7 linked regions of the Homo sapiens genome follow. The protein of the gene in region 3 purifies or fractionates together with the protein of the main gene of each other region. This does not show direct contact. Each region holds a gene or a part of one and is shown on either strand. Other genes may lie near its edges.

Region 1 (3,500 bases), on a different chromosome or scaffold from region 3:
GGTGTAAGCCACTGCGCCTGGCCTCTCCTCCCCATTTTATAGATTGAGGAGTTGGCTTGTCCGATGGCAGAGCTGGGGCTACAACCTAGCATACTTGCTCCCAGGCTAGTCCTCTTGGTTAATAAGCAGCATTCCTTATCATTTGTGCCTTACTATTTGGAAAGCAGGGTCCCACTATTGAGAACTGATGGAGCCCGGACTGACCCCCAGTTTTGTGCTGCTTTTACTGTGTTGTGGCCTCCCAGTGCCTTTTCTTAGTGTATCTGGTTGATTTTGTCTAACGCCATTCTGGTTCATCCACAAAGTTAAATCCCCAGACATTTCTTGTGGGTGGCTCAGAACTTTACTGAATGTAGGTTAAACCGCAGATTTGTGTCAGGCTCTGTGAGACTTGTAGGATCATTCAGCCACAGGAGAATATTTTCTGTGCCGTTATCCACAGACATTCATCAGGAGCCCTGTGTGAGCCCAACCTATTGCTGGGAACCAGGGAAGCTCTCTTCAGGATGGCTGAGCACCATCCCAGCCCTAGAGAACCAGGAGACTTTTCTGAGAGATGTGGTCCACATGCCGAAGCTGGGGAGTGATCCAAAATGGTCTGGGGTTGAATGCAGAAATGAGTAGATGTGAATGAGCTTCAGCATCAGGGATTAATGCTGTGGGAGAAATGAAGGTAGCCTACATCTGTGGTTTGCTCTTGGTTAGGCACTGATTCCTGGAGTCTGCCTGAGACTAGGACTTACCCGTGGTCCACAGCACGGTATCCCATCCTGACTTTCTGTTAATGGTATGACTTAAAGAGGTTATTGCACCTATGGGATGGCTTAACCGGAGTGATTCTGGCCTCTTTTGGTAGGGTAACTAAAGCCCGTAGAGTTAGCTGCAGGACCACAGTACCCTGTTGAATTCATCCTCTCCCCCTCCCTTGCCAGACTGAAGAAGCTTTGTAAGAACTAAGGCAGAGAGGTTCTTTGGGAAGAGAAATTGGAGAATTTAGGGTCATGGTATCTCAGATCCTAACCCTGTTCTCCAGTATGGCCTTCTTGGCTGGCTCAGCAGGCTTCTGTTGAACTCAGCAAGCTGCCTGTGCCCAGCCCTTCATCACTGTAGTGAGGATCCTGCTCACATCTCTCAAGGGAAAAGGGACCAGAAAAGTGATAGCTGGGGAGCTTGCGAGTGTCTTGACCATCTGAATTTGTCTTGACAATAGAAATGAAGACAGAGATGAAGCAAGGAGCACCCACCAGCTTCCTCCCGCCTGAAGCTTCTCAACTCAAGCCAGACAGGCAGCAATTCCAGAGTCGAAAGAGGCCTTATGAAGAAAACCGGGGACGGGGGTACTTTGAGCACCGAGAGGATAGGAGGTGGGTGTATGAGGCAGCAGTCACCCTTGCTCTGGTAGGTTTCTATATCCATAGCCTCGTGCTTGCTGGGGACATTTGCACTAACCTAGAGGGGCTGAGTAAAGATTCCCTCTGCTTTCACACTCTTCCTGTCCCTTCCCGTACTTGCTACCAGATTCAGCTTTCCTAAACTTTTGGTCCTTCCCCCAGTTCCTCCCTTCTTACCTGCAGGGTAACTTCTAAATATCTTAGACTTTCACGCGTGAGATGCCAGCCTGCCTGTTCTGTCCTTTGCCTTACTGCCCCTGCAGTCAGCTGCTTGATACCCGTAATGAAAGAAATATCTGTTTCCTAACACTACTCCCAAATACACATCCTCTTCCCATTCATCCACTCATTCAGTCAGTTCTCACAGTGCTGTCACGAAGTGCCCACTCTTGGGCTGGACACTAGCAACATACAGATGGACAGTGGGTTTTGCCTTCTGTTGTTCCAGTGTGGGGACTCAGACACATACACTAGTAAGCCACAACCTCTGAGGTGAGTAGTCAGGATGCAGGTGAGTTTCAGGAGTTCAGAAGAGGGAGCAGCCTCTGCTTTGGTCATTTCCCTTCCCTAACAAGCCCTTCCCTCCTTTCCCTCCAGACCAAGTCCTTCCCTTCCCTCCTTCCTTCCTTCAGTTCCTGTCTGAAGCCTTTTGCAATTATGAAAACTAGGAATGGCCACTGTACTCATCTGGACTAGTCATCTGACATTCTATTTCCTATCTGGCGGAGTCCACCTTCTAACTAGCTTGTTACTGTCTGAGACAGGGCCTGGATCTCACAGGCTATGATTTAAGTTAGGACATGGATCCCACCTCATATGGGGTTCTTCCACTGCCTCCCACAGAGCAGAAGCCTGGAAGCTACTTACTGATGGAGAGCAAAGGAAGAACACTCGCTCTGATCCTGGGCTGGCAGGGAAAGTTTCCTAGAATGGACTTAACATGTGATGAGCACAGCTCATCCATGTTAGCCCTGGCCTGGCGAGGCCAGAGGGGCCCTCCACCAGAGGGAAGCCTGCTGCTGGGAGAGTCAGCAGCCAAATGGGCATGGGCTCCCCATCTGTGCATGCAGTGCACTGCGACCACCCAGACTGTCCAGGCAGGACCCTGAGTGTTAGATTCTACCTTTCTACCCTTCTTCCTCGTTCCTGTACAGCAGAAACCAACAGTGTTAAGTCCCTTTTTTAGCGTTTTGGTAGGAAAATGAATATCGTTTATAATTTAGGACACTGAAAAAAATGGGTCATCTCAAATTCTTACAGATGTAGGATTTTAAGAAGCCTGGTACATGGATAGATAGTAATTATTGGGATTTATATAGGCTCTTGCACATTCCCCTTCCTGGCCAGCACCCTTTTGGGATACCACAGCCTCCAAACAGTAACAGAGATCAGTGTGGAAGTGGTTGTCAACATGCAGAGGGTATGGATCAGAATCTTTGGGTGTAAAAAAAGAGTGAAAAAATTCCCTAAATGATTCTGATGCCCCCCTTCAGCAGAGCATGCCTTCTTCAATCCCTGTCTCCACCGTAGGAGTTGACGGTCATTGCTCTCCTTGCAAGGATGTAGGGTTTCAGAGTTCTTTTGCCCACCTCTGTGGAAGGAAATGGAGATTCAGGAAGCAGTCTGGAGGCCACTCATAGATTACAGCAGAACATTCATTTTCTTTCCTTTGTGCTCATCCATTGTTCTTGTATGACTTAACCCCTGTTTCTAATACAGGGGCCGCTCTCCTCAGCCTCCTGCTGAAGAGGATGAAGATGACTTTGATGATACCCTTGTTGCTATTGACACCTGTAAGTCTTTGGAGTGTGCATCTAATTCTGCCTTACAGTCAGTATGGGGAAATTGTGGTCTTGACCTTCACCAGAATCCCTGCTGGGCACCGTCCAAAGACATTGTTAGTCCACATGTGAGACACGGCTTAGCTCTGGAGCAAGAGTACTGGTTTGGAGGCAAAAGACCTACTCCCAACTCTAGCAGTGGGACCCTGGGCAAGTCATTCTACTTCTCTGAGCTTCCCTTCAGGAAGGAGTAAATCTGCTGTACTAACCTCAGAGGATTTTCAGGGAGACTCCTCAGTGGATATAGGAGCAATCTGGAAAACCCTGA
Region 2 (2,886 bases), on a different chromosome or scaffold from region 3:
GATGCATGTGTCTATGTGTGTATGTATTTGCATATTTGCATGTATGCAGGTGGGATTATTCCTTGGGCGGTGATGGGAAACAGGAGCAGCACATGTTTCCTGATCTGTTACATATACCTCAACATTTGTCTTGAGACCAGTTCTGCAAGGGAGGGATTATCATTACCATCATTGTACGTATGCAGAAACTGAGGTTTAGAGAGGTGAAGTCATTTGGTCAGGGTTACACAGGTAGCAAGTAGAAGAGTTATGTTTAGAACTTGGCTCCAAAGCCTTAGTTCTTTTTATTCTGCTAACTAGAGCTTCATAGAAATTAATTTCCGTAAAGAAATGACATAGAATGGTAGCTTCAGGCAACCAGGTACCATGCTGGGGAGTTGACTTGTACATCTCATTTCATTTTCATAACTACCCTGCAGCTGTCATCCCATCCCCGTTTTACAGTTGAGGGACCTGGGGCTCCGAGAAGGGAGATCTGAGCATGGCCCACAGCTGGTATGGGCCTGGAGCCCAGTCCTCTTGAATTTCTGGCCAAAGCTCACCTATCCTTGGTCCTTGGAGGACATGCAAACACTCACACAGCCACACGCATGTGCACACAGAAACACACACAAAGGGTCAGGAATTCAGCATGTGTGAAGCATGCTGCTATTGGCTGTTCTTCCTCTGTAGTCTTTCTGGTCATTTTCTGTGGTGGACCTTTCTGGGCTTGGCCAGGCTGAGGCCAAGACACTTGCAGTGGGGTGTGCTCAGAGCAGGGGGCCCAAAGAATGGCTCCTCTGTTTACAACACACCCAACAGGAATCTGGGGTCATTGTGATGAGGGCGTCAAACTTGTGGCTTCCCTATGAACAAACGTCCCCCAACACCTCTATGTGGCTTCTGGGCAAGACCAGTGGGACAGGGCTCAATATTGGAAGAAAGACTGTAGTAATTAGTGGATGATGTTGCCATCTGGAGCCTGTCCAGTCTATGCATGGGTAGGCCATGAATGGTCTTAGAAATAAAGGCTTTGAACCTCTCTTTCCAAGGTACCTGGACTATGCCAGAGTCCCCAATAGCAATCCCCCTGAATATGAGTTCTTCTGGGGCCTGCGCTCTTACTATGAGACCAGCAAGATGAAAGTCCTCAAGTTTGCCTGCAAGGTAATTGGAGAGCTCCTTGAGCTTGGCAAGTCAAGAGCATGGGGTGCCCCTGGCTGGGGCAGGCTGTGTGCAGAGCAGCCTGCAGTTCAAATCTGAATGTTTTGGTGCTTCTGTTAATTGTCAAAACACTGTAACAGGCACTTTATCTGAATCATTTAAGCCTTACAACCTGATATGTCATTGCCCTGTTACAGATGAGAAAACCGAGGCCCAGAAAGGTTGGTAGGTGACATGTCCAAAGTCATGGGGCTAGGAAGTGTCAGAGCAGGGATGGAATATTAGGTGCATAATTACTGGTAATACTGTATTATTACTATTATCTTTTTATACTAAGCATGTAGCATAGTGCCTAGCATAAAGGTAGATGCTTAATCCTCTTATGCTCCTTCTGATGGTTATTTACATAGTAATACTGTATTATTACTATGGCTTAATCCCTCTATGCTCCTTCTGATGGTTATTTTTGTTTCAGGTACAAAAGAAGGATCCCAAGGAATGGGCAGCTCAGTACCGAGAGGCGATGGAAGCGGATTTGAAGGCTGCAGCTGAGGCTGCAGCTGAAGCCAAGGCTAGGGCCGAGATTAGAGCTCGAATGGGCATTGGGCTCGGCTCGGAGAATGCTGCCGGGCCCTGCAACTGGGACGAAGCTGATATCGGACCCTGGGCCAAAGCCCGGATCCAGGCGGGAGCAGAAGCTAAAGCCAAAGCCCAAGAGAGTGGCAGTGCCAGCACTGGTGCCAGTACCAGTACCAATAACAGTGCCAGTGCCAGTGCCAGCACCAGTGGTGGCTTCAGTGCTGGTGCCAGCCTGACCGCCACTCTCACATTTGGGCTCTTCGCTGGCCTTGGTGGAGCTGGTGCCAGCACCAGTGGCAGCTCTGGTGCCTGTGGTTTCTCCTACAAGTGAGATTTTAGGTATCTGCCTTGGTTTCAGTGGGGACATCTGGGGCTTATGGGGCTGGGATGAGGAGCTGGATGATTCTAGGAAGGCCCAAGTTGGAGAATGATGTGGAGAGTGTGCCAAGACACTGCTTTTGGCATTTTATTCCTTTCTGTTTGCTGGATGTCAATTGACCCTTTTATTTTCTCTTACTTGTGTTTTCAGATATTGTTAATCCTGCCAGTCTTTCTCTTCAAGCCAGGGTGCATCCTCAGAAACCTACTCAACACAGCACTCTAGGCAGCCACTATCAATCAATTGAAGTTGACACTCTGCATTAAATCTATTTGCCATTTCTGAGTTTATTGCTTTTTTTGGCGGGCTGTCACATTTTGGTATCACATTTAAAAATCAGTGAGTTGGGAAAGTTTCCACCTCAGTCTGTGTTTAGTTTGAGGTGATATTGTTGGATTCCCAGGAGCGAGATTAACACACCTTTCTGGGATAGATTGGGCCTCACGTCTAATTGTTGGATTCCCAGGAGCGAGATTAACACACCTTTCTGGGATAGATTGGGCATCACGTCTAGCCTTCAGGGTGGTGGGATTTTAGTGGGGTGGAGTTCAAGAGATTGTAGTTACAGAGGACACACTTTGAAGGAGAGGCTTGAGGTCGGCAAGTCTAGAGCAGAAAGTGTAAGTAGAGGAGACTGGACATCAAATATAGAATCCCTTTTTGAGAAATTTGAATGAGGAGAGAGAGGGGTACAGAGCTAAATGGAGATACAGGAACAAGGGAGCATTTTCTTGGGGAAGGAGAGAGAGACTTGAGTAGGGAGGAGTCAACGGAGAGGGAGAAGT
Region 3 (2,582 bases):
CAGCAGAACTCTGCCTGTGGGCCCATGGAGGGACTGGAACGCCCTGCTCCCCACCCCACTCTGGTGACAGGTTGTCTGGAGGACGGGCTGGGGAGGACAGGTGAGTGGGAAGGTGAGGTTCTGGGCCCATGGAAGCCATGGGGGAGGATGGGGACTCACATGGGGGCAAGGAGACGGGTGGGTATGGGAACTCACCCAGCTCTCGGTGCCGGCTGTGGAGAGTGGGCCGGGCACGTGGTGCCGGCCAATCGTCAGGCGCCACCCCCAGCACCAGCCAGGCCCGCAGCAGCGCCGCGCCATAGCTGCGCACGAAGGCCTCGAGGCAGGCAGGGTTGCAGGTGAGGCGTGACAGAATGCGCAGTGCACGTGGGCTGGGCGGGCCCGGTGCGCCGGTCACATAGGTCAGCAGGCCGTACAGCGCCGGGCCGGTCACAAGTGCCCCACTTGGGTCAGGGGCCTGGGAAAAGCGCGACAGCAGCAGCAGGGCTGGCCCTTCGCGTCCCCAAGGCTCCTCGATGGCGGCGGCGGGGCTGCGGCCCGGAGTGCGTTGGGTGCGTGGTGCCCGCAGCGAGGTCGGGGTCGGGGCGGGGCTGGCCGGCTCCATGGGCTCCGGCGGACACTGCTCAGGAGACCAGTCGGGGGAGATGTCATCAGGGCCTGTGGCATAGCCCTCGGAGATCAGCCACGACCTGCGGAGGGCAGAAAGGGAAGGAGACTGAACCCAGAGCCAAGGTTAAGGGGCAGAGTCCAAGAGGCGTGAGGCGTCTTTTTTTTTTTTTTTTTTTTTTTTAAAGAAATGTGGTATCCCTCTATAGCCCAGGCTGGAATGCAGTTGTGGGATCCTAGCTCACTGCAGCCTTGAACTCCTGAGCTCAAGTGATCCTCCCACCTCAGCCTCCCAAGTAGCTGGCACTACAGCTGTGTGCACCACACTCAGCTAATTTTTTAAATGTTTTGTAGAGATGGGTCTCGCTATGTTGCCCAGGCTGGTCTCGGACTCCTGTGCTCAAGCGATCCTCCTGCCTTGGCCTCCCAAGGTGCTAGGATTACAGGCGTGAGCCACTGCATGAGCTAAAAGCTGTCTTGGAGGGAGGTAAAGCCAGGGGAGAGAAGGAGGGCGGAGAAAGGGGAGAAACGGAAGTGAGAGGGGGATACGACTAAAACCTCATTCAGTAATTACTGATGCCTGTCACGTGCCAAGCCGTTCTTTAGGTGCTGGGTAGAAGCACTGAACAAAGTGCCTGTCCCCCTGGAGTTTATGTTCCAGTGAGAAGAAGCAGACAAGAAGTAAGAGTACCATGAGTTATGTTAGTGTGGGGCTAGTGTAGAGTACAGGGGTCATGGAGAAAATAAAAAGGAAATAGGAAGCGCTGGGGGCTGGGCATGGTGGCTCACATCTGTAATCCCTACACTTTGGGAGGCTGAGCCAGGAGGGTCACTGGAAGCCAAGAGTTCAAGACCAGCCTGGGCAACAAAGCGAGATCCCCAACGCTAATGTTTAAAAAAAAATAAAGAGTTCCTCAGCTTTCCTGTGATGCTTCAGCTCATGAGTGATGGTAAGAGAGTAAGAACTTGGACTCCAGAGCCCACCATCTTAACCAGCGTATATCCCACCTCCCAGTGAACTTGTCTGGGGCCCAAAGTTCAAAGGTGCTGGCGTGGAACCAAGGTTAAAAGGTAGATCCAGCCAGTGCAGTGGCTCATGCCTGTAATCCCAGGACTTTAGGAGGCTGAGGCGGGTGGATCACCTGAGGTCAGGAGTTCGAGACCAGGCTGGCCAACATGGTGAAACCTTGTCTCTATTAAAAATACAAAAATTAGCTGGGAGTGGTGGCCGGCACCTGTAATCCCAGCTACTCGGGAGGCTGAGGCAGGAGAACTGCTTGAACCAAGGAGGTAGAGGTTGCAGTGAGTGGAGATGGCACCACTGCATTCCAGCCTAGGTGACAGAGTGAGACTCTGTCTCGAAAAAAAAAAAGGTAGACTCAGGGGAGTGGAGTGTGTTAAATAGGAACTGGCAGGTGGTCGTGTGGGAATCAGGAGTCTGGGTTATAAAAGTCTTATTCAGACAGAATAGGGGTGGAGGTAGTGAAGAGGACCAAGACAGACACAAACCCCACATCACTGCACTGCTCACCCTCCCAAGCCCTGAGGCAGGGACTCACCTGAGGCTCCGGAAGCTTCCACCCTGTGCCCGCTCAGGGGTCCTCTCCTCAGGAAAGTCCCAGGAAGCAGCTTCTCTTCCCTCTTCTTCCTCCTCACCAGCCTCACCACACAGCTGCCCAGCCAGGAGAGGCACAAGTCCCAGAGCCTGCAGCCGGCCCAGGGCCCCAGTGTCATACAGAAACCCCACAAGGGCAGCCACAATACGAGGGTGCCATGCGCTTGCACGAGGGTCCCGCAGCAGGCCCATCAGTAGATCCAAGCCACCAGCATCCCGCAGTCGGGCCCGGTTGATGGCCTCACGACATAGGAGGCACACAGCCCGCACCAGGGGCTGCTGGGAGGTTGGGCTAGCTCCATTAGGATCCCGGCGCTGCCGGAGCTCATCTACCAGCACCTCCACGCCACCAGCATTGCCC
Region 4 (3,500 bases), on a different chromosome or scaffold from region 3:
TGGCTAGGGGTCCTCCTGACACCTGATGGGATGAAATGCCGTCACCTGTCACCCGGAGCTGACACTCTACTGCAGGAAACACAACCCTCGCAGTGGCTAAGCTGACGGCAGCAACGTGGGTCCTGACTCTGGCCTGGCATACCGGCTGCCTTCCGGGCCCATGGCTTTTGCAGGGGACCTGCTGCCGGGGAAGGATCCTAACTTCATGGTGGTGACAGGCTGACATAAACCAACCCAATAAGGAGCGCCAGCCCCTGAGTGAGCCCCACTCCCTCCGGCAGCAACTGAGAAACTCGGAAGCTGGGGGAGAGCCTTTGGCTTCAGGAGGGTTCACATTGAGGCTGAACTCCCCTGTGCAGCTTGGCCTTGGGAGGGGAGTGGCCCAGGGCCTGAAAGGATGTCTTTACTAAGGCACCGTCCTGCCCACATCAGCTGTTCAGGTAACATCTGTCCCATCCATCCCTCATTCCCACACGGACACCACACGCCTGCGTGATGGCCACTTACAATGCAGTCAGGAGAGGTGTGACGTGCCCCCATCCTCGGCTCACCACAGCACTGCCAGCTGAGCCCCACGGGCCACAGCAGCGGGAAGCAGCCAGGGAGGGCCGGCCGGGTGCTCTCAGGTCTCAGCAAGCCACGTGGCTCTGAGGCCAGGACACTGGGGAAGCCAGGCTCCCACGCAGGCAGAGCTACTGCTGAGGCCATAGGACAGCAGAGGCCTCGTCCCCAGTGGCTGGGAGGAAAGAGGGTCAGGGCCTTTGCACTGCAGGTCCCAGCCCAGGCTTGGGGGTGCTCCCTGGGGAATGGCTGTGGGGATGGGCACTAGGAGCCAGGCCGAGCTGCTTCCATTTGCAGTCTCGCCCCTCTGGGGAGGGAAAGGACAGGCAGAAGCTCTGTGCTGTTATTTTGGCGGCCCCTAAAGAGCCAGTCCTCCCAAAGAACCGGAACTGGGCTCGCACTTAGTTAACCCACGGAACGCAGGAAAGTGGCAGGAAGCATGTTCCAGGTTGATGCCTGAAGAAGGGCTGGCAGCTGCTGCTTTTGTACTGAGGAGCCCTGAGCCCTGTGAAAGAAGGGGAGGGAGAGGCCCCGAGACGACACACGGAGAAGCCCACCCACCCCGGCAGCCCAGCCCTGAGCCCACGCCAGCTGAGCACAGCCACGCGAGCGACCAGCAGCAAGAGCTGCAGCACTGTCCACTGTTCACTGTCCACTGTCTGGCGGAGCCAGCCCAGAGCGCAGAGCCGCTGCTGCTTTAAGCCTCGTGGTTTCGGAGTCAAGCAGCCACAATGACCAGCACTACCTCCCCCATCTCTTTCCCTCTTCGTGTACTGCGTTACCCTCCCAGTCTTCCTACAGAGGAGCAAAGAGCCTTCAAGACCCAACGGCACGCAGCCACAGAGAGACAGGGCTGGAGCCCGTGCCTTCTGTTTTTTTTCCTTTCCTCCCCCTTCTTTCTCTCCTTTTTTCTTGAGACGAAGTTTCACTCTTATTGCCCAGACTGGAGTGCAACAGCACCATCTTGGCTCACCGAAACCTCCGCCTCCCAGGTTCAAGCAATTCTCCTGCCTCAGCTTCCCGAGTAGCTGGGATTACAGGCATGCGCCACCACGCCCGGCTAATTTTGTATTTTTAGTAGAGACGGGGTTTCTCCATGTTGGTCAGGCTGGTCTTCAACTCCCAACCTCAGGTGATCCGCCCGCCTCAGCCTCCCAAAGTGCTGGGATAATAGGCATGAGCCACCGCACCCGGCCTCTCTCTCCTTTCTTTAAGACAGGGTCTAGCTCTGTTGCCCAGGCTGGAGTGCAGTGGTGTGATCATGGCTCACTGCAGCCTCAACCTCCCAGGTTTAAGCGTTCACCCCACCTCAGCCTCCTGAGTAGCTGGGACTACAGGTGCACACCACCACACCCAGCTAATTTTTGTATTTTTTATAGAGACAGGTTTTCACCATGTTGCCCAGGCTGGTCTCAAACTCCTGGGCTCAAGTGATCCGCCCGCCTCAGCCTCCTGAAGGGCTGGGATGCCAGGCATGAACCACTGTGCCCAGCCTGCCTTCTGTTTCTGAGCTCAGTTTTCTGGTTTTCTACACTCCCCATCTCCCCACAGCACCAGGAAGGACATCAAATGCATTTGCCTTTGTGTGCGAAATTCCAATGTGCGTAGCTACATTGCTGGGCATAGTTCTGGTAGCCATTCCTCAGAAAGGTACCCAAAAGGACATCTGAGTGCAACAAGGGATTCCAATAGCTCTTGCATGACCCTCCAAGAAACAGGTCTCCTGATAGAGAGCCACTGGACGCCTAAAATTTACGAACAGAATGGCCCAGGGGAAAGGGAACTTGGCCACCTCTTTTGGGATTTAGAAAACAAGACACACTCTTTGACTTGAATGACATTGTTTTGGGCACCATAAAGAGGAATGCTTTACCAGGCAGGTGCTACAGAGAGCTGGACGCACACTTTTTTTTTTTTTTGAGACGCAGTCTCACTTTCTCACCCAGGCTGGAGTGCAGTGGTGCAATCTCGGTTCACTGCAACCTCTGCCTCCCGGGTTCAAGCGATTCTCCTGCCTCGGCCTCCCGAGTAGCTGGGACTACAGGCATGCACCACCACACCCAGCTAATTTTTGTATTTTTAGTAGAAACGGGGTTTCACCATGTTGGCCAGGATGGTCTCGATCTCTTGACCTCGTGATTCGCCCGCCTTGGCCTCCTAAAGTGCTGGGATAACAAGCGTGGGCCTGGCCCACAACACTTTTAAGAACTTGAATACTGAAAGACATCTATGAATTTGAAGAGAAATATTGCAACTGACTGGACACTTACATGATGTAAGGCACAATGTTAAGATACATGCCTAGTACATCAACACTCTGGAAAACCAAAAGTATCTGTCAGGTGGGAAGGTGGGAGTAGACCATGCTGTATCCAACATCACACCTTAGTCCTAGAGGGATGCCTACAGCCCTGAGGACCAAGGAAAATGCCAGTGAACTCGCCTCTTCCAGGAAATGCCAATGAAACCACCTTTGCAAAAACTGTAACAGTGAGAAAATTATGGTGGTGAAAGAGATCTGATCTAACCAATCCCCATCTTTGGCCTTCCAACTACCTTTTTTTTTTTTTAAATGGAGTTTTGCTCTTGTTGCCCAGGCTGGAGTGCAATGGTATCATCTTGGCTCATTGCAACCTCCGCCTCCCGGGTTTAAGCGATTCTCCTGCCTTGGCTTCCTGAGTAGCTAGGATTACAGGCATGTGCCACCATGCCCAGCTAGAGATGGGTTTCTCCATGTTGGTCAGGCTGGTTTAGAACTCCCGACCTCAGGTGATCCGCCTGCCTCAGCCTCCCAAACTGCTGGGATTACAGGCAGGAGCCACCGCGCCTGGCCCTTCAAACTACCTTTAATTATTCCTGGGCTTGGGCCAAGCTAACTTTGGGAGACATTTGTAATTTAAATGATAATACTCCTTCCGTAAAACTCAACTGCCTTTGTA
Region 5 (3,500 bases), on a different chromosome or scaffold from region 3:
ACTACTTTGAATTCCAACAACCATCACTGGGCCTCCACTATATGCAAAGCATGTGGCTTTCATGGATGTTATGCATTCCCAAAGGGAAAAAAAGATGTGCAGAGTCATTGCAGCTCACAGCTGAGCTATGGGCTGTGAGACACACAAAAGAGTAGTGAAACAGACTTGAGCATCAACCGGCAGGATGGAGACTCACCAGGAGGGATTACATCACAATCACACAGGGAACCACTGTCACTTTAATCATTTATCACCTGACTAGTTCCTCTCTGTGATGTGGAAATTGTATCCTCAACTGCCAGTTTACCTAATGATTAGAAAAGTATAGGGAAAATAGAAAGGAGGGAAGGGCAGGATCCAATCACCAAAGCAAAATTGGGACAAGCTAATGTATTTCTGCCAAGATTGGTAGAAACAAGCACAGATCTATTTCCTTTGAGCTGCTTTTTATGAAATGGTACTGGGCTGGCATTTCCTTCTCACAAGATTTGCTGTAGAAATCGTAACTGTTAGAGTGGGAAGGAAATTTGAGATCATCTTGTCTAAAGCTCCCATTTGACAGATGGAGAAACGGAGGAGCAGACTGGTTAAATGACTTGAAGTGGTGGCAAAGCTGGACTACAGCTGAAGTCATCAGGTTCCTAGTCAGTCCAGTGCTCCAGCCACTCTACAATGCTGCTACTAAGACAGGCGTTCATAAAAATCACTTGTTCCCATTTGACTTGAGGACTTACACTCATTGTTGCGTTAATCTCTGCCACCGTTTCTTCATCAGTGGGAAACTGATATATCTGGACCCCATTGCTGACCAGTTCACTCATGATCTTACTCTTGAATTTGTGCAGTTCATTCTTGGCAATGGTGTCAGCTTTTGCAATTATTGGAATGATGTTCACCTGTAAAACAGACACGTCCATTTTTACACAATTCCAACATAAGAAAAATAGACAAGTGAATAAAACATAGCAAACAAATAAAAATTGCAAAACCTTACTGTAAAAAATAAAGATGTTTCCTACTTATATCAAAACATCTCATGTACCCCATAAATATATACGCCTCCTATGTACCTACAATTTTTTTTTTTTTTGGGGTAGAGATGATAATGAAAATCAGACTTTCTACCTAGGTGAAAAATTAAGAAGACCTGAGATAAACTTTTAGTTCCATATTCAAACACTTTTACTTCCTCCCATCCTGCACTGAAAGTATACTTGTAATTTCCTCTCCTATGCTACCTCATTTTTCTTTACAGAGTAAAGGAAGTGTTACTCTTCTATGACAAATAGTGATAACAAAGGAACTTATTCTTTGAATGACCAACCACTCCTTTTAGACCCCTCCCATCTACTTTAGGCTCTTGAGTTCGCACCTCCTAACAGTATAACAGCAAAGTTTTTGTAAGAGCAGTGGAGTATTCAGTTCTATGCAGCCCAACATCCTTTCTTTCTTCTGATGACCTGAAAATTGCTGAGAGGAGAACCTATGTATTAGCCAAAACAAAAATGGTGTTGCCCACTGTAAAATTTTTCAAAATCACACCAACTAATTCTTTTGAAAATCAGTAATTCCATCAAATTACTCCTTCATGCCAGAATAAAATCGAGCGCCAAAGGCAAGGCTCACTTTCACAGCATCAGTTACAAAGAACAGGGGAGAACTCAGAATTTGACATTAGTGGCAGGAAGCCCAGAAAGGGAGCCAAGGATACCCCAGAGCACAACTTCCAAACCCCATGTGGACATTCTTTCCCCGGCTGCCCCCAGCCCTGTGCACAGGACACATTTCTTAAATTCGCATTTTAAGATTAACTTTCCCCTAATCCCTGTAAACACAGGTTTCAATAAGACGTTACTGACATCCGATATATAGAACTATGATCTTCACCCAGTTCAGGTGAGAGAAAACAGACTCGGTAAGGAAGCTGTCCTAGCCAGGGAACAGAGAGTCTTTCGGGAGGTGTTCAGGTCCCATCTGCATGCCTTTGCTTCTCCTTTTATCCAAAGGCCAAATTAGAAATCCTGATAAACCCGAATGAGATGACATGCTGAGAGAAAGACCTATTCTTCAACCTATTCCTCAACCTGCTCCTAAGCTCACCATGCTTGGGCTTCCTCCAGCAAGTTGCAGACTAAGAAAAACATCATTGATGGTGGGGGAAATGTTTGGATCAGGACCAGAGGAACAAGAAACTTCCTATTGTTCTTATTGGCTATCTTTGATACACATTTAGTATTTAATTAATGTCAACATAGACAAAATGGCAGAGATTCACTCTTTCTTGGCCAAATTGATCAGAGGAGATAGAGAAATCAAGCAATTTAGTTTTAAAACCTCTTTTTCCTCACTAGCCGGACTTGAAAGTCTTTTCTGAAATGACCATACATTTGCTTAACCCTTCCCTTTACTTGTATAAATAAAACTTTGATATTATCATTTTCAGATGCTAGCTAGCTCTCCAACTCTCCAACAATATCACTTCTTTGAAAGTTTAACCTGCTTTATGGTTGACTGTTTGCTTTTATTAGTTGTGCCTGTTTTGCCTTTTTCTTTTCCGTTTTCAATGAACTCTATTAAACATAATAATAGTGTTGGATATTATCCGGCTGGGTCTGCATACTCAGCCCTCGATTAGGAAGCCTCCTCACTCTACTTCCTTCAGAATGTCTGTGGAGAATGGGGCACTCTTGAGAACAGGGAGGTCTGCCCCTGCTTCCAAGGACACAACAGACCCGGAAGCGGCCCTCACTGCCCGTGATCTCTCCACTATCATGGCTAATGGCACAGCTCCCAGGGAGCTGAGGAATCAGATGGGATGAAGGAGGGTTTCTATTTATTCTGCGAAGAGTACTCTAGCTGCAGTGATCCTTCCAGGCCATTAGAAGATTTTTCTGTAAACTACTGTGTCTGTGCCTGCTGGAAGCCAAAGGAGCCTGGCTTGGCTTCAGCCTCTCCAGCCCTTTAAAGGACAGTTGAGACAGAGGCCTTGGGGACAGGCTGATCTTCTGAGCATTCTCTCACTGTTTTGTCCCTCTGGAGAGACAGCATCTTTATCAGTGTTGTTTAGATAAAATCATAGTAACAACACCCAGCAGAGTCCTCTAAAGAGCTTTATCATCTGATAAGACTTTTCTGTGAATGCAAAAGGGGTTTTGAATCTAACGGTAAATACCATCCACAGCTTAGTTTTGTGGTTGTTCTTGTTGCCATTTGTTTCATCCTTATTTCAGAATGTATTGTCTTCTATTTATTTCAAAATGGAAAGTCTAATTAATATATAGTAAGGTGCAAAATTTTATCAAACTTACCAGTCTCTTCCTTCATGTGTTGTGAAAAAGAGAAGGTATAAATGTGGCAAGCTCAGGGATCACACTGAAATTAAGACTTTGCTTTACTTGAACACACATGTGCAGTTCAGTTTTAAAATTGAAGAAGCTGGACCATTATCATCACAGAGACAAAAATTTAACCTTTTATTCCATTGTAAACTTTGAATTAAA
Region 6 (3,500 bases), on a different chromosome or scaffold from region 3:
GCCACAGCGGCTGCCTGGTGCGTGAGCTCTATGGGAACCCAGCCCTGTTGGAAGGTCACTGTTCCGAGGAGACACCTAGGGAACGTCACCTACGTCCTTGCTGGATTCAACAAGGGGCGTGGACCCCACAGACCTGTAGCAACGCACCGGGATCAGCACGGAGGCCCTCACAGTCGGCACTCAAAACAGAGCAGCATCCACAGGCAGGACACCTGGGACTCCACCACCCCGGGTATGCCATGTGGACACCCACACAGCCTCTGGTTGCTTCAGTCCTGATCTCCAACACGGGGTGACGAGACTGCTCCCCTTTTAGAAGTGTGTGTGTGTGTGTGTGTGTGTGCGCGCGTGCAAGTGAGCATGTGTGTGAGCCAGCATGGGTGCCCATGCCCATATGTGTAAGACACCATCACTGCTGTTCCCAGGAACATACCGGTTGGCCCAGGACACCTGAGCCTGCACTTTCCCCACTCTGCTCTCATTCAGACCCTCCCACCCCCAACTCAATACACACATCTTTCAAAACCGCCATTCTACTCCACCCATGGTAAAGAAGCCAGCCCATGTTGCAGAAACTGTGCCTGCCAAAGTAAACGTGGAGAGTGGCACTATGGCCTCCTGAGGGCCTCATGGCCCTGAGGAAGGGGGTGGACATCAGAGCAGAGGCGTGGGGAGAGCTTTTCTTATTTCCGCCTGTGCCTCTTGATTTCCAACAGGTGCTCACACGGCCTATTCCAAGAGAACTTTAGAGAGGTCTGGGGCAGCAGCACCTGCCAGGCCTTCAGTGCCCTCTGCTCCACAGGCCACCAGACACAGCCTTGTGGTACAGGTGCCCGCTCCCCTGGTGGGATGGATGGCTTTGCTGTGTTCCTGACACCTGACACTGTTTGGGGACAGGGCGGTTGAGAAGAGGTTTCGGCTACAGCAGCACGGCTGCCTTGTAAAACCTAAGCAGAGGATGTGGAGACCTGGGAACCCTCTTTCCTCCTCCTATCAGAGGGTTTTGGGAGAGACGAGTAGACACGGTGGGGACAGGAAGAGGGGCGGTGCCAGGCCCAGGTGGCCGTGCAGGAAGGGCCTTCACTCACCACGCAGTGTCACTGAGCACAGTCACCACCTCGTCCAGCACATCCGCGCCCACGACGTCACTGTAGGTGAGCAATGTCTCGTACACCTGGCTGGCCGTGGTCTTCCGGATCTGGGACAGGGATGCAGTGCATTTGCCGGAGGGAAGCGCCACCGCCCCACCCCGGAGAGACGACAGGACCCAGGCCAGGGAGCCCCGTCAGTGGAAGGCGTCAGGAGGAGGACGCTGACCCTGCATCCCATCCCAGCCACAGCAGGGCTGCAACCAAGAGGAGGTGCCTTCCAGGCCCATTAACCACCTCCTCCCTCCACAGACACACAGCTAGCTGCAGGATCCCAGCAGTGAAGATGACATCATTCTTGTTTAAATGCTTTATTAACCAACCTGCTCCCTCACCAGAGAAGCAATCTCGCCTGCTCTCTATTAACTAACCTGCTCCCTCACCAGAGAAGCAATCTCGCCTGCTATTAACCAACCTGCTCCCTCACCAGAGAAGCAATCTCGCCTGCTCTCTTTTCATCAGAGAAGCACTCTCACCTGCTCTCTATTAACCAACCTGCTACCTCACCAGAGAAGCAATCTCGCCCGCTATCTATTAACCAACCTGCTCCCTCACCAGAGAAGCAATCTCACCTGCTCTCTTTTCACCAGGGAAGCAATCTCGCCTGCTCTCTTTTCATCAGGGAAGCAATCTCGCCTGCTCTCTTTTCATCAGGGAAGCAATCTCGCCTGCTCTCTTTTTGAGTGGTGCCCTGGTCATCATGTCTCACTGCGCTGGTGGTCTGAGCCCCGGGCCCACCCTGGAGGTGCTGAGTCGGCAGCACAGGGCCCAAGAGCTGCACTGCTGAAGCCCCAGAGGTGCCAAGCCTGAGGGTCCGGCACCCCACTTCGAGAACCACCATACAACATGAAGTTACTTTTGCCTTTTAGGAAAATGTCACCTTTGTATCATCTGAGGTTTTTTTTGCAGCCAGGAGAAAAGAAATCCTAGAAATCTAATAGCCGGGGAGTGCTGGGGATGAAGGGCACTGCCCCTAGGTGTGGCTGAACCACTTCAGCCTGGGTCCTTCTGGAAGCTCCTGAGCCAGATCCCACCGCCAGGTCACCCCTCAATGTATGTCCATAGAAACGCCAGCCGGACAGCCCGTCCTTAAAGCCAGAACAGTGGCGTCCAGAGCCCCTTGGCAGCCGCGTGCCTGTGACGCGTCGTCACCCAGGCGCGTTAACGAGAGGGGCTCGGCTGGAAAGCACACCAACACAACAGTGCCAGCGAAGGCCTTCTTGTCACTGAGGGGCTTGTGTCCACACGGCAAACACACGTGAGCAGGGGCAGGCACTCACCAGCGGGAAACGGTGGCAGAGGAGCAGACACAGCTGCAGGAGGGCCTGCCTCCTCACGTCGCCGGGGAACTGCACCATCTCGCAGAACCTGCCGGGAGCAGCACATGGCTCCAGGTGAGCCCCACCCCGCGCAGGCCAACCCCAGCAAACCCCGGACCCAAAGGCCCATGCAGAGACCTGGGCAGAGCAGATCCGTGAGCACAGTGCGGGCCTGGGGCCCCAAGCCGGAGGTGTGTGTGTGCGTACATCTGCACTGTGCCTACACACACGAGTGTCGCACTTGGAAAGTCACTGTGGGAAGTGAGGACGCCTCACAGAGGATCTCCTGCAGGGCCGCTCGCCCTGCCATGAGGACCCCCACCTCAAGGAGCCACAGAGCAGCCAAGGTGCCTATCGCTGGCTGGCGCACCTGCCCAGTGTCCACCTGAGCGCCGCAGAGCAAGGCACTCAACAGCGACCCCCAGGGCACACAGGAGAATCGGGGAGGCAGCCCCTGACCACGCAGCTCCTTTCCGGAGCCTCCCCTCCCGCCAGGGCAGAGCGCGAGGGCAGCAGAGGCAGAGCTCGCCTGTTCCCGCGGGAACTCCCTCCACCAGCACCTGGGCTGCCTCACCTCCCATTGCGACTGCTTTGAACATTGGAATGCACGATCTTAGGTTAGCTTGAGGAGTAACACTAACTGCTCCTCTCCCGCCTGGAGCCGTGGACTCCTGCCCTCAGCCAAGGGAGGCTGCGCCCTGCCATTCCGTCTAAGGCCAGCAGCACTTGAAACTCACACTGCGATGCCTGACAGGAGCTTCTGGATATCTTTTGAATTCTTGATTTCTTTCTTACAGAGCGCAAGCAACTTCACAGCAAAGGGGTGGCTGGAAGAACAACACACACTTTAGAGATGAGCTTTCACAGGCAGCCCCGGGATGCACACTTTTTCTGTCTCAAAGAAGGTCAACTCCGTCCTCCCAGTGGCTCAGTCCAAGAAGCCTGCAGCCCTGAGGCCCCTCTGCCAGCAAGTCCGCTGGTCCCCATCCCAATACCTCCACAGGCCGGCCTGGTCCCTAGCGGCTGTGCCACC
Region 7 (3,500 bases), on a different chromosome or scaffold from region 3:
AGCTTGATTATTATTTCCATTTTTGCTCATCTCTGGTATAATTGTCTACTCCAACACATGGGCAGCTCATCTCTCTTTCTCTCTCAGCTCCATTTTACAAGTGAGAAATATGAGGCACAGAAAGGTTAAGTCACTTCCCTGGGCCACATAGCCAGTAAGTCATGGAGCTGGGATTTCAGTGCAGACATTCCGGGTTTATTTCTTATCATTACACTGTTACTTCAGGTTATGTTCCTTTTTGACTTTGTGCTTCTGTAAGCCCTCATCTTTACATCAACAGGTCCCTTGAAATATTATAGCTGCCTTCTTACTAGATCTATAATTTATTTTCTTTTTATGTAAATCCTTAAAGTGAGCCCAACCATCTTTTATTTAGACACTTAAACACATAGTTTTACTCCTTTTTTGTTTTAAATGTCTTTAATCAAAATGATTTTTCCAGAAGCCCTTGCCAGTTCTCTATGAAGATTTCTTATTGATCAAATTACAAAGCAGGCCAGGTATAGTGGCTCATACCTTGTACTTCCAGCACTTTGGGAAGCCTAGGCAAGTGGATCACCTGAGGTTAGGAGTTCGAGACCAGCCTAGCCAATATGGTGAAACACTGTCTCTACCAAAACAAACAAACAAAAATTAGCTGGGCTTGGTGGCACATGCCTGTAATACCAGCCACTTGGGAAGCTGAGGCAGGAGAATCGCTTGAACCTGGGATGCAGAGGTTGCAGTGAGCCGAGATTGTACCACTGCACTCTAGCCTAGGTGACAGAGCAAGACTCTCAAAAAAAAAAAAAAAAATTACAAAGCAAAAGCTATAGTTCCATGAACTTTGTTGTGTTACAATCAAGTAATAAGACAATAGTATTTCTAAATGAAATAAAATATGTTGTAAGACAAACTATATCAGCAGTCTCGCTCTTGTCCCTCAGGCTTGAGTGCAATGGCTCAATCTCGGCTCACTGTAACCTCTGCCTCCAGGGTTCAAACGATTCTCCTGCCTCTGCCTCCCAAGTAGCTGGGATTAAGGCGCCTGCCATCACACCCGGCTAATTTTTGTATTTTTTTTAGTAGAGATGGGGTTTCACCATGTTGGCCAGGCTGGTCTCAAACTCCTGACCTCAGGTGATCCACCCGCCTCGGCCTCCCAAAGTGCTGGGATTACAGGCGTGAGCCACCGCACCCAGCCAATTTTAACCATTTTCAAGTGTACATTTTAGTGGCATTAAGTACATGCATTCACGTTGTTTTATAGCCATCACATCTATCCATCTCCAGAAACTGAAACTCTTTACACATTAAACAATTACCTCCTATTTCTCCCCCACTCCAGCCCCTGGTAGTCATTATGCTACTTTCTGTTTCTATAAATTTGACTATTCTAGATACTTCATAAAAGTGGAACTTTGGGAGGCCGAGACGGGCGGATCACGAGGTCAGGAGATCGAGACCATACTGGCTAACACGGTGAAACCCCGTCTCTACTAAAAATACAAAAATTAGCCGGGCATGGTGGCGCGCGCCTGTAGTCCCAGCTACACGGGAGGCTGAGGCAGGAGAATGGCGTGAACCCGGGAGGCGGAGCTTGCAGTGAGTCGAGATCGCGCCACTGCACTCCAGCCTGGGCGACAGAGCGAAACTCCGTCTCAAAAAAAAAAAAAAAAAAAAAGTGGAATCTTACAATATTTGTCCTTTTGTATCTAGCTTGCTTCACTTATGTTTTCAAGGTTCATCTCAGTGTAGCATATATCAGAGTTTCATTTATTTTTAAGGCTAAAAATATTTCATCATTTGTGTTTACCACATTTTATTTATCTATTCACTCATCAATGGATATTTGGGTTGTAAAACATATTTTTAATATACCACAATACAAAACAAAATTAACAGACATCATGGGCCTTTCTGTTCCACAACAACTAGACCTTATATATGAAACACACTTCGTGGTTTTGTTTAATCTGCAAACACCTTCCCTTCCCCAGTCCTCACATTGTTGAATAAAAATGAAGCAAACAGGGTGCAGCACACCAACATGGCACATGTGTACATATGTAACAAACCTGCATGTTGTGCACTTGTACCCTAGAACTTAAAGTATAATAAAATATATATATATTTTTTAAAAAATGAAGCAAACAAACGAGAGCTTTGCCCATTGCAGTGGGGTTGGGAGAGTGGTCAGGAACCTGGTCTTTCTTTGCCAAGACACCAAGAAATCACTGGTGCCTCGGGGGCTCAGGGAGCCAAAGAGCTAAGGCCTAAAACACAGCGTCCAGCCCTAGAGCTGCAGGGTTCCCAGGGGAACCTGCGCCAGCTGGGAGGGACAGGATTATAATCAAGCAAGCTCTCACAAGTCAAAATAACCAAACCCAGAAGAGGGAAAGCTACAGAGAGAAGGCTGGAGGGAAGCCAAGGGGAAGCCAGCAGAAAGACACGGAAAACCCCAGCGCGGGGATTGAGGGAAGCCAGGCTGCATCTGGATGTTTCTTCCACCTTTTCCCTTCGGCTAACCTACTGCTTGCTTTGTGCTGAGAACTGTAGAATTTCCCACACTTGACACATCTGTCCAAACCTCTGCACTAAGAGACCTGACCAGACTCTGGCATGGCTCCTAGCAGAACAAATCTGTGTCCCTAGGATGGCCCGGTTCCCCTTAAAGTGCTTGCCTGAGAAAACTCAGTGCTGCCAGGAAAATGTACCTGTTTCTTCTACTCAACACACAACTGATGATAGGCCCCTGACCTCCCTTTCCAAGAGAATTTACTAAAAAGGACTTAAAACTGTGAATATGTATCTCTTGAAACTCACAAGCATCTCTCTCAAGGACTGAGAGCCATTCCTTTGCAACACAATCATCAGGATGGATAGAGTGTCTGTCTCGCAGTCTCTGCGGGAGAATAGAGTCCTAATCGAGAGAACTGCCAGCTATCAGACACAGCTGGCCTCCTCACATTTACACTGACCAGCCCTTTCTACCTTTTTACTTCTCTGACTCTACAGAGCCCTGCGTTCTCCCCTCCCTCATTCTCCCTTTAAAATGCTCACATCACCACTGCACAAATCAGAATGGAGCCTAGCTCTTTCCCCCACTGTCAGCAGTTACTGAATGAAACCTATTGTCACTGCCTAAACTAATATCTGGCTGTGCTTATCTTTGACAGCTCCCATCACCCTGGCCTCCCACTAGCAACTTAAATAAGCCCACTCTGCTCTGCCTCAGGCCCTTTGCATATGCTCTTGTTTGCTGCCTGGTGTATTTTACACTGGAGCCCACCCAGGCTCAGTCCTTCATTACATCTCTCTCAGAGAGATGGTCTCTGACCACCCAGGACAAAGCAGGTTTTTCTGTGAGTCCCTGTCAGAACACTCTCCTTTTTCCCTCCATTGTACATCCCCACATTTTGGAATTAGTAGTTTACTTATTCGTGTGTTTTTCTGCTCTCCTGACTAGCCCATGAGCTCCCTGAGGGTAAGGACCAATGTGTTTAATTCACCACTGCAGC

What was found.
Region 1: the proteins of ARMC5 (region 3) and HNRNPUL1 purify together in Homo sapiens (affinity purification with mass spectrometry, with the first as the bait; one study listed by BioGRID). This does not show direct contact.
Region 2: the proteins of ARMC5 (region 3) and MAGED2 purify together in Homo sapiens (affinity purification with mass spectrometry, with the first as the bait; one study listed by BioGRID). This does not show direct contact.
Region 4: the proteins of ARMC5 (region 3) and LRRC47 purify together in Homo sapiens (affinity purification with mass spectrometry, with the first as the bait; one study listed by BioGRID). This does not show direct contact.
Region 5: the proteins of ARMC5 (region 3) and SEPTIN11 purify together in Homo sapiens (affinity purification with mass spectrometry, with the first as the bait; one study listed by BioGRID). This does not show direct contact.
Region 6: the proteins of ARMC5 (region 3) and TBCD purify together in Homo sapiens (affinity purification with mass spectrometry; one large-scale study listed by BioGRID and IntAct). This does not show direct contact.
Region 7: the proteins of ARMC5 (region 3) and TF purify together in Homo sapiens (affinity purification with mass spectrometry, with the first as the bait; one study listed by BioGRID). This does not show direct contact.

The regions. Positions count from the first base shown.
Region 1 is NC_000019.10:41,270,872-41,274,371, forward strand, and holds part of HNRNPUL1 (heterogeneous nuclear ribonucleoprotein U-like protein 1), read left to right. Parts: intron 1-1,210; coding exon 1,211-1,364; intron 1,365-3,110; coding exon 3,111-3,184; intron 3,185-3,500.
Region 2 is NC_000023.11:54,813,630-54,816,515, forward strand, and holds the end of MAGED2 (melanoma-associated antigen D2), read left to right. Parts: intron 1-740; exon of another isoform or gene 741-871; intron 872-1,031; coding exon 1,032-1,146; intron 1,147-1,618; coding exon 1,619-2,053; 3' UTR 2,054-2,061; intron 2,062-2,251; 3' UTR 2,252-2,386; downstream 2,387-2,886. UniProt on the Homo sapiens protein: Regulates the expression, localization to the plasma membrane and function of the sodium chloride cotransporters SLC12A1 and SLC12A3, two key components of salt reabsorption in the distal renal tubule.
Region 3 is NC_000016.10:31,462,501-31,465,082, reverse strand, and holds part of ARMC5 (armadillo repeat-containing protein 5), read right to left. Parts: coding exon 2,166-2,582; intron 690-2,165; coding exon 196-689; coding exon of another isoform or gene 1-195.
Region 4 is NC_000001.11:3,789,999-3,793,498, forward strand, and holds part of LRRC47 (leucine-rich repeat-containing protein 47), read right to left. Parts: intron 1-3,500.
Region 5 is NC_000004.12:77,012,252-77,015,751, reverse strand, and holds part of SEPTIN11 (septin-11), read right to left. Parts: intron 1,031-3,500; exon of another isoform or gene 897-1,030; coding exon 735-896; exon of another isoform or gene 1-734. UniProt on the Homo sapiens protein: Filament-forming cytoskeletal GTPase. May play a role in cytokinesis. May play a role in the cytoarchitecture of neurons, including dendritic arborization and dendritic spines, and in GABAergic synaptic connectivity.
Region 6 is NC_000017.11:82,937,065-82,940,564, reverse strand, and holds part of TBCD (tubulin-specific chaperone D), read right to left. Parts: intron 3,295-3,500; coding exon 3,205-3,294; intron 2,517-3,204; coding exon 2,429-2,516; intron 1,199-2,428; coding exon 1,089-1,198; intron 1-1,088.
Region 7 is NC_000003.12:133,749,393-133,752,892, reverse strand, and holds part of TF (serotransferrin isoform 1 precursor), read right to left. Parts: intron 1-3,500. UniProt on the Homo sapiens protein: Transferrins are iron binding transport proteins which can bind two Fe(3+) ions in association with the binding of an anion, usually bicarbonate.